2 separate regions of the Homo sapiens genome follow, and region 2 is linked to region 1. The links come from fine-mapping of genetic effects on gene expression. A gene starts in region 1. The other region holds a variant in brackets. All regions are shown on one strand. Distances are between the middles of the regions. Region 1 holds the start of LINC02231 (long intergenic non-protein coding RNA 2231). Region 2 overlaps LINC02389 (long intergenic non-protein coding RNA 2389).

The links. PIP is the estimated chance that this variant, and not a neighbour inherited with it, causes the effect. A credible set is the group of variants that fine-mapping cannot tell apart.
Region 2: its variant is the best candidate, but not a certain one, in a credible set for the expression of LINC02231 in nasal epithelium (TOPMed, PIP 0.55).

The regions. Positions count from the first base shown.
Region 1 is chr12:64,989,615-64,994,999 of GRCh38, forward strand. LINC02231 (long intergenic non-protein coding RNA 2231) reads right to left here and starts at 2,677. Exons shown (of 4, transcript NR_146276.1): 1 at 2,663-2,677. LOC107984522 (a long non-coding RNA gene) reads left to right here. Exons shown (of 2, transcript XR_001749177.2): 2 at 1-1,032. RefSeq lists an enhancer at 3,014-3,540.
Region 2 is chr12:64,955,815-64,961,199 of GRCh38, forward strand. All of the region lies in intron 2 of LINC02389 (long intergenic non-protein coding RNA 2389), which reads left to right. LINC02231 (long intergenic non-protein coding RNA 2231) reads right to left here. Exons shown (of 4, transcript NR_146276.1): 3 at 1,940-2,043. Among named protein-coding and RNA genes, the nearest start is that of LINC02231, 34 kb to the right of the region's middle. The variant G/A (reference allele first, on the strand shown) is at 2,398.

The DNA.
Region 1 (5,385 bases):
CCCAGTCCCTTTCTTTTACTTATAGGAAAATCCATGGGGCCATAATCTGTGGATGGCTTTAGCTAAGTCTTATGCTGTAGTGAAAAAACAGAGCAATTGTTGGGTTTATGAAGATAAGCTAGTTTCTACTGAGGAAAGATTCCAGTGGCATTCCTGGGGGCTCAGTCTTGGTACTAGCAGGGTACTGGTAGTATGGAATTTGAAAGTAATCCATAAAATGAGAAAAATCTTGGGTTTGACCAACCAGTCCCCACAGAGGTTCAGGTGAGTAGAAGTCATCTTTTGAAAACACTTAATAAAACATCATGCAGTTTTGGATCCTGTTTCCTTAGACACTGCCACCAAATACATAAAGGAAATTTCTCAGAGGAAAGAAACATATGACATGTTCATAGGAGCAGCAAACCATTGGTTTGCAGGTAGGCTTGGCTTTTCCAAGGTGTTCTAACCTTTATGCTCTTCTAATGGTTCTCCAGATTACTATGACTTGTGTTAACAAGATAATGACAACATTGGATACCTCTTTAAATCAGCAAACTGCAGTTCTTAATCATTATCACCTCCTGAACAAAAACCATGACCAACGGTACTCAAATGCTTTTGAGCTGCCTGTAAGGGAGGAGACCACCCCTCATATTGTCTTATGCCCAATTTCTGCCTCCAAATAAAGAAGAAGTAAAAACTAAAAGGCAGAAACGAAATCCACAAGCAGACAGCCCGGTGCCACACCCTGGGCCTGGTAGTTAAAGATCGATGCCTGACCTAATCAGTTATGTTATCTATAGATTACAGATATCGTATAGGAAAGCACTGTGAAAATCCCTGTCCTGTTTTGTTCCGATCTAATTACCAGTGCATGCAACCCCCAGTCATGTACCCCTGGCTTGCTCAATCGATCACAACCCTCTCAAGTGGACCCCCTTAGAGTTGTGAGCCCTTAAAAGGGGCAGGAATTGCTCACTCAGGGAGCTCAGCTCTTGAGACAGGAGTCTTGCCAATGCTCCCGGCCGAATAAACTGCTTCCTTCTTTAACTCGGTGTCTGAGGGGTTTTGTCTGCATCTTGTCCTGCTACACCTATATTGCCTGAACTTTGATTTGGGTCAAATTGATTTGGTTGGCAGAGGCTCCTGTTAGAGAGTACACCTCAGGCTTTTGGAATTTTTGGTGTTGTCCTTCTGATAGTCATCATAGTAGCTCCCCTGGTGTACCATATCCTCTCAAGTCTTAAATATTTGTATGCAGCCATCCACTGAGTGTTGAGTGGTCTCACTTTGACTTGATCATCAAGAACATAAAGAATTATTCAACTGGTGTGATGTCATGACTTGTGAATTTCATGCTGAGACCAAATAAGTTTGTTTATGATGGTGACAGAGAGTGGTATCAATGCCCCAGGTTTTGAGAGGTGGCATTGTTAAACTAAATTTGGGGGGATTGTTAAACTAAATTTGACCTGAGAATGCCTCCATACCTGAGTCCTTACTAATGAAATGCAATGTAACTTAGTACTCACACTAACTGAAAACCTGGCTTAGGCATATACTTTTGTCACAAATGAGTCACAGCCAATCACAGCAGCTGAGCTTCAGTCAGTCACAGGCAGCCAACTCAAAACACCATGTTCACATAAAGCAAATGCTGAATAAGGCAAACACCAGCTGTAATCAATGGAGCTCTGTACCTCACTTCCATCTTCTGTTCATAAATGCTATCTGACCACATTGCAGGCCAAAGTTTTTCTGAACTTGTTCTAGTTTTGAGGGCTGCCCAATTCGTGAATTGTTCTTTGTTCAATTAGACCCTGTTAAATTTAATTTGTCTGAAGTTTTCCTTTTAGCAACTGAAGCATGCAGCAGGTCTGACATCATTAGGCAATTGCAATTCTCTTTCCTGCAGAGCTAAGACTCTGCCTCCTGCCTGATTCTCAAAGCAGAGCTCCAGGGAGCAGCAACACTAATTGTACAGGGCTGGCACACTAGAGAAAACCGATTTGCTACCCCAGCTTTAGGGCTTTTTCTAACTTCCCTCCAAAAGGAAATATACTAGTGCCCTGCTCACTCCCTGAGGTACTGTCTTCGCTAAGGTATGATGCTTGTTCATGGATTAATGTGTTTTCCCTCCAGGTATATGTTTCTATTTAAAATGCAGAGAGTGTTTTAATGTGGAGGAATGACCCTAATGATAGAAGTTTTAATAAGTCAAATGAGCGGAAAGGCAAGACAATATAACAAAAAGAGCACCAGTTTTGGCATAGCAGGCACTCAATAAATGTAAGTTCCACTTCTTTCCTTGTGCTGAGTGTCTCCTAATTACCTAGCACTATGGTAAATGCCCAAGAAACTCTAAGATATAAACTTTTGGTTTAAGAAGGCTTTATTTGTACTGATGAGATGATATGAGAAAATACTTTCTTTTTCTCTAAATACTATTACATTGTAGGCAGCAGACTGGCCAATACAATTAATTAAACTTTAGAAAGAAAAGATAAAGCCAGTCATCTGCTATGTAGTCTATGCAGTCCCAAAACAGCAGCTGAGTTTTTTTCACGGAACTCTTCTGGGTATTGGAAGGCAGACTAAATACTTTACTTGCTGCCCAGCAACACGAAGATGGAAAACACATCTTTTGATTAATTAAAAGCAAAAGGTTGGAACTACTTACCTTTCCATTCTTTAATTAACAAAGCCCACAGGCCACATGAGGAAGTAATAACACTCATTATGTTGTGATGAAGGACTGTGATGATGAGTTAAGTCAGATGGGACTCCAGGCACGATTCCCTTCAAGGCTTCCCCAAGACGTGCCCCGAATGTAGACAGATCCTTACTTGTTGAAGAACTGTATCTCACCAGTGCTGGCATATGCTTCTTCAGAGAGTGCATTCCCTTTTGCAAGGGAAAGAAAAGTCCTTAAAACAAAAGGTTATATTTTAATTAAGCCTAGGCATCCTTTCTGCAATTTCCTTTGTTGAAAGAATACCTCCTTTGATTTGTATCTGTTGGTGTTAGTCTTTGGAATAAAAAGAGATTGATCCCTTCCAGGCAGAACTGTCCCAACTGAATGATCAAAAGCCTTGCTAGCTGACATACAAACCAACAAATTATTTTCTTTTTCTCCCTTAAATCTCCCAGGAAGCACCTTTTGAAAGATAGTCTTCATTCCCCAGGCTTTGCTCACCATCCTTCATGCCAGTGGGTGGTCTCAAGGAATTTGAGGAAATGGCAAACACTCATTCTACCTGCAGGTGGAAGCCTGACCTCCTGCCTTTCAACTTCCTCCAGAATCCTTGGAGGGTTTTTTCTTTTCTTGTCACCAAGGCACCGCTGAAATCTGTTAGTCAAATAGCTTTCTACCCATGAGGAAAGTGAGCTTTGATATGTATTTGCTTCTCATTCAGCTATAGCAGCACCAGTTAAGATGCTGCCACCACATGAATGTAAACGAAAAATAAAACAGCAGGCTCAGTTTTCATTCTAAAGTCCACTCTCTGATGGGAATAAGAAATAACTCAATAGCATTAGTATGGAACATTGGGTGTCAGGATTTTTGCCTTCATTTCCCATCTTTTTTTTGGAAATTAAACTCAGTACCTCTATTATCTTTAAGAATCAGGGATAGTGATGATATTTTTCCCCCAAGAAAGAAAATAAGGGCCTATAAAAATGCTCTTTTTAATGCTCTCAAGGGGAAATGCTGAATTGAGAAGCAATTGGGTTTTCTAGAAGTCCAACAAACGTACTTTTTAAAGTGGTTCTCTGATGGAATACCTATAGAAAAACCTTGCTTCTTCATGTGAAGGTTTGCATTCACCAAGTCTGATTGTGTAATAGAGGTTACCCTTTTTAAATTAAATGAATTCTAAACAAAGTTTTACTTACATTTCCATTTTTGCTTTTTAAGAATGGAGTGATTGAGTCTTTTTAGGAAATGTATACACTTTGTGGCTAACTTTGCATGCCACATTGCAGCATGCTGTAAGTTTTATAGCTCTTGAAATACCATGTTAGCAGTAGGAATGCTGATGCTTCTATGATTACAGTGGTCCAACTGCAATGCTATAATCTCTGTCACTGAAAAATCTCATGCTGCTAAAACCTTGAAGACGATCTGAATTGTAGATGGTTTTAAAACTAGCTGTAGGCAATCCCATTACTGGGCATATACCCAAAGGAATATAAATCATTCTATTATAGAGATACATGCACACATATGTTCATTGCAGCATTATTCACAATAGCAAAGACATGGAATCAACCCAAATGCCCATCAATGATAGACTGGATAAAGAAAATGGGGTACATATACACCATGGAATACTAAGCAGGCATAAAAGGAATGAGATCATGTTGTTTGCAGGGACATGGATGGAGCTGGAAGCCACTATCCTCAGCAAACTCACAAAGGAACAGAAAACCAAATACTATGTGTTGTCATTTATAAGTGGGAGCTGAACAATGAGAACACATGGACACATGGGGGAAACAACATACACTGGGGCCTGTCAGGGGAGGGGTGTGTGGGGAGGGAAAGCCTTGAGAAGAATAGCTAATACATATTGGGCTTAATACCTGGGTGATGGTAAGGGAGAAAACCACCCCTCATATTGTCTTATGCCCAGTTTCTGCCTCCAAAGAAATAAGAAGTAAAAACTAAAAGGCAGAAATGGAATCCACAGGCAGACAGCCCAGCACTGCGCCCTGGGCCTGGTAGTCAAAAATCAACCCCTGACCTAACTGCTTGTGTTATCTATAGATTTCAGACATTGTATGGAAAAGCATCATGAAAATCCCTGTCCTGTTCTGTTCCTTTCTGATTACTGGTGCATACAGCCCCCAGTCACGTACTCCCTGCTTGCTCAATCGATCACGACCCTCTCATGCAGACCCTCTTAGAGTTGTAAGCCCTTAAAAGGGACAGGAATTGCTCACTCAGGGAGCTCGGTTTTTGAGACGTGAGTCCACCGATTCTCCCAGCTGAATAAAGCCCTTCCTTCTTTAACTCGGTGTCTGAGGGGTTTTGTCTGCGGCTCATCCTGCTACAATGGGATGATCTGTGCAGTGAATTGCTGTGGCACACATTTACCTATGTAACAAACCTGCATATCCTGCCTATGTGCCCTGGAACTGAAAATAAAAGTCGATTAAAAAAAAAAAACTAGCTATAGGAAACCATCCCAAATTCAATGGTGTCAATGCCTGTTTTCCTCAACTTGGTTTAGCTGCAGGTATGGAAACCTTCCAGATATACTTTCTGCTTCTTTTAGATCTTGAGACACTCTGGTAGGATGTGAGGAGCACTATCTCAGGCAAGAGGCAGGTGGGATCTGAAACTTGAAATCCCTCTTTAAATCTAGTATCTTTCGTGCGTAATGTGAGCCTGGGCTG
Region 2 (5,385 bases), 34 kb before region 1:
TACATTCTTCCCCCTCTATAGGGGAGGTCTGAGCTCTGACATACAATAAAGAAGGGAAAGTGTCCTTGAGGGTCATTGTCCAGACAAAAGGCTACATTTTCCAGCCTTTTTGCTGCAAATGTGAGCATGTGACTGCTTCTTGCCACAGAAGTGAGATAATATGTATCACTTCTGGGCTGGGAACATCTGCATTGAACTGAATAACAAGAAAAAAACTTTATTTTGCAAAGCTACTGAAATTTGAGGTTTATTTATTTCTTAAGCTGAGGGTCAGGAAACTTTTCTGTAAATAGCCAGATAGTAGATATTTTGGGCTTTGTAGGACACATACAGTCTCTGTCTCATATTCTTCTTTTTGTAAAAACTACTCTTGACTCACAAGTTACACAAAAACAGCTGCAGGTTTAACTAATTCAAGTTTTTAATACAATAAAAAACAACAAAAAACTAACACAATGAAAACAATGTAAATGGTGCATGAGATGTCACTACTATTAACTAGCAACCTATGAGGACTCAGGGAGAAGACCCTTAGGTCACCTTAGCCCACCGTTCCACCGTGAAAATAACTGCACTGTGGCTCTCCCATTGTGGTGCTTAAGTGCTCCCAAGTCAGTACTATTTAATTGGTTCTCATAAATACAGGAATGCCTCCAAAGTTAAAGTTGAAGCAGTACATGAAACTAATAGAAAAGTAAATTCCTACAGCCTTAATTGGAGTACCTCAGAGTGTGGCTGCTTTACTGCTTTCTCTCCCACTTTCTCAGCTTTGTCATCATACAGCATTTCTTATACTATTGCTATACCTAGTTCAGTGCTAGATCTGACCGGAGTCTTCCAACAATGCATCGACATCCACCAGCAGATCTTGAAGCTCTGCGTGGTAGGACTCCAAGATGGCGTCTACATTTCCTCGGCCCCCACCCTCACACTACTTGTCATGGTTGCCAGACTCCCTGTTGGTATGCAGGTATTGTCAGGCTTGGCACCTTCCATTCCACCCAGGCCCTTGTCTCAGTTGGCACAGAATCCAAGACCACACAAAACTTTTAGGAAAGTTATTGTCCAACAATAGAATGAATAGATAAATGGTAGATTATTCTGCAGCAACAACAATGGAAATTTGGAAGAATTGAAAATAGTATGAGAAAAAGCTTATAACAGCATATTACATAAAAACAGCAGAATTGCAGATTATATATTCAAAATGAATTTAATTGTGTAAAAACAAAGACTTGAAGGAAGTACACTAAAATATTAACAGTGGTATTCCTGGGTGGTAGATTATGAGTGATTTTTTTTTCTTTTTTCTTTTTTCTTTTTTTGCGACAGAGTCTCCCTTTGTTGCCAGGCAGGAGTGCAGTGGCGTGATCTTGGCTCACTGCAACCTCTGATTCCCTGGTTGAAGCAATTCTCTTGCCTCAGCCTCCCTAGTAGCTGGGATTACAGTCATGTGCCACCATGCCTGGCTAATTTTTCTATTTTTAGTAGAGAGGGGGTTTCACCATGTCGGCCAGGATGGTCTCGATCTCCTGACCTCATGATCCACCTGCCTTGGCCTCCCGAGGCTGGGATTACAGGCATGAGCCACCACACCCAGCATTATGAATGACTTTTAAAAAATATTATTTTCTATGTTTTTTGAAAATATGTACAAATGACTGGAGTTTTTTTTTAATGACTGAGAAAATAAAAAGTAGTTCTTCCTATAAAATCTTTGGAGAGCTCTGCTGTCCAGAGTGAGTTCCCAGCCCAACTCCTGTCCTCTGAGAGCTTAGCTGGGAGAGGAACATAAGTCACCCTCAAGCCTATGTTCAGAACAGGAACAGGACAGGGAAGAGGAGGATGAATGGGAATCCGACTTAACAATGAGGTTTGAACCAGAGGGAATGTGGAGACCCAGAGCAACCTTGGTTTGGTGCGATCCATTTCTTCCTACCTGCAAGTATTCAACTTGTTTCAGATCCAGTTTCTTATCTCAGCATATGCCCTGCATACTCTGCTTGTTCTCTATGCCCTCTCTTCACTCCTTAAGTCATGGCACTGGAAACAAAGGAAGCAAGAGAGACTTTCAGACTAAAGCTGTGTGCTCATCTCTTGTTCTCACCCTTCCACATTGAGGGCCAGGGCAGAAGCCTGTCTGCACTCTGTTCCTGCACCCCCACACCCACAGAACAGCCCCTTCATGATGCATCTCATCTTTCTTGAGGGACCACTGTGGGGGCTATTCTGTGTCTATCCCCACATAGCTCATCGTTTCACTTGTTTGTGCACATGTATGCACATATATGCAAGTGCTCCTGAAAACATTTATTGGAACACATGCTTAGGCATAGCCTTCATTTATTCTGCCAGTTAACAAATTTCCCCCCTGCTTTGTGTAATTGCTGCACTTGG[G/A]GACAAGTGTGCTGGCTAAGGGAACAGTAAGTGCAAAGGCCTGGAGTCAAGAACAGGTTTGATTCTTGCCCTCCAGTTGTTCCCATTGTAGTGAAAGAGACAGATCAGTAAATAGGTAAATGCAATGCTGTATGATGGACATTTATCACTTAGCATTTATAATTAACATTGACATTTAAAAATGTATGTTATTTATCGTCTTGGTCCCCGATAGAAAATAAGCTCCACGAGGGCAAAGGTTTTTGCATTTTTTTTTGTTCATTCAGTGTCTCTAGAACCTCAAAGAGCTACAGGCACATAGTAGATACCCAATGTTGTTTGAATGGAAGAAAAAACCCCACATTTATCCCTCTGCTCCCATTTTCCCTCCCCAGAGGCAACTGGTGTTATTAGGCCCTGGGAGGAGTGTACTATTTCAACAGACCACCATGCTCTCCACCAAACTTTGACTTTGGTACTGCAGGTGAGTCTCTGAGTATCCCACAATTTGGGGGATTCTACTTGCCAGGAGGTGTAGGGTGCTGTCCACCAGCTGTAATGTTGGCTGCAATTGGCTCTGGTCCTCTGAGTCTCATAAGGACCTGGGTACCCTTTTTGACTGTGGTGCAAAGGAGGAATCAGGGACTGGCCAAACTCTGGAGACTGCATTCAGGCTTTGGTGGGGACTTGGCATTTAGGAAAATACAAGCCTGCTGCCACGTATCGTGAGGCCCTCTCCTTCAGCTCATCGCCTAAGCTTGATAGGCAGGGAACCTGGCAGGAGATAGTCTCTGTATGTGAATGTGTAAAACCTGAGCTGCATGGAGCCCTCAGTGCCACAAATGTCAGGAGCCTTTGCTTTTGGAGTGGACTTGATGTATGGCCCTTGAGCAGGACCCTGACGAAAGACCAAATTGCAGGGTCAGGGACCTGGTTTCCATCTCAGAAGAAATATCTTTTTCAGAAGTACTCAAGTATCCACAGATTATCTGAGGAGTCTAATTGAATTTTCCTTTATTCCCTTTATAGATAAATAAGGCCTGAATTTTATACTTGGAGCAATTTACAATTTAAAATTTACAAGTATTAAGGAAATAAATTAATAATTACTAAACACCCATTATCCTTGATGGATTAATTATAAACTATGGTCCAAAAAGTTTAAAAGTGCCCAAGACCACACAGTTATTAAGACCTCAAAGAGCTACAGACACATAGTAGTTGCTCAATGTTGTTTGAATGGATGAAAAAACCCCCACATTTATTTATCCCTCTGCTCCCATTTTCCCTCCCCAGAGGCAACCAGTGTTGTTAGGCCCTGGGAGGAGTGTGTTATTTAAACAGACCACCATGCTTTCCACCAAACTTTGACTTTGGGACTGCAGATGAGTCTCTGAGTATCCCACAATTTGAGAGATTCTACTTGCCAGGAGGTATAGGCCACTTAATTAGTTTTAGAAACTTGGATGCCTCCAAGTTTCCATTTATGTTTCATTTTGTTTCTGTAAATCCACTTGGTCAAATTACTACATTTTTGGATTCTGAGTATCTTCCATAAAGCCTAACACATCATAGACTCAACAAATCTTTTTTAATAAACAGAAGAGGCCGGGCACAGTGGCTCACGCCTGTAATTGCAGCACTTTGGGAGGCTGAGGTGGGCAGATCACCTGAGGTCAGCAGTTCAAGACCAGCCTGGCCAACATGGCGAAATCCCATCTCTACTAAAAAAATACAAAAATTAGCCAGGCGTGGTGGTGTGCGTCTGTATTCCCAGCAACTTGGGAGGCTGAGGCAGGAGAATTGCTTGAACCTGGGAGACAGAGGTTGCAGTGTGTCAAGATTGTGCCACTGCACTCCAACCCGGATGACAGAGTGAGGCTCCATCTCAAAAAATAGACAAAAATAAAAATAGAAGAAAAAACCTTCATTAGTCACAAAGACTTTTTTTCTTAAATTTCCAACTTTTAAGTTCAGGAGTACATGTATAGGATGTGCAGGTTTGTTACATAGGTAAACGTGTGTCACGGTGGTTTGCTGCACAGATCATCTCATCACGTAGGTATTTAAACCCAACATCCACTAGCTATTCTTCCTGATCCTCTCCCTCCTCCAACCCCATGTCCTCCGACAGACCCCAGTGTGTGTTGTTCTCCCCATGTGTCCGTGTGTTCTCATCATTTAGCTCCCACTTATAAGTGAGAACATGTGGTATTTGGTTTTCTGTTCCTGTGTTAGTTTGCTAAGGATAATGGCTTCTAGCTCCATCCATGTCCCTGCAAAGGACATGATCTCGTTCCTTTTTATGGCTAGATAGTATTCCATGGTGTATATGTACCACATATTCTTTATCCAGTCTATCATTGATGGGCATTTAGGTTGAGACCATGTCTTTGCTATTGTGAATAGTGCTGCAATGAACATATATGTGCATGTGACTTTATAATAGAACGATTTCTATTCCTTTGGGTATATACCCAGTAATGAGATTGCTGGGTTGAATGTTTTTGTTTCTAGGTCTTTTAGGAATAGCCACACTGTCTTCCACAATTGTTAAACTAATTTACACCCCCACCAACAGTGTAAAAGTGTTCCTTTTCCTCCACAACCTTGCCGGTATCTGTTGTCTTTTGACTTCTTGATAATAGCCATTCTGGGCCAGGAGCAGTGGCTCACACCTGTAATCCCAACATTTTGGGAGGCCAAGATGAGCAGATCACACGAGGTCAGGAGTTGGAGACCAGCCTGGCCAGCATGGAAGAACCCCGTCTCTACTAAAAATACAAAAATCAGCTGAGCGTGGTAGTGCACGTCTGTAATCCCAGCTACTTGGGTTGCTGAGGCACGAGAATTGCTTGAATCTGGGAGGTGGAGGTTGCAGTGAGCCAAGATCATGCCACTGAACTCCAGCCTGGGCAACAAAGCAAGACTCTGCCTCAAAAATAATAATAATAATAATAGTAATAGCCATTCTGACTGGAGTGACATGGTATGTCATTGTGGTTTTGA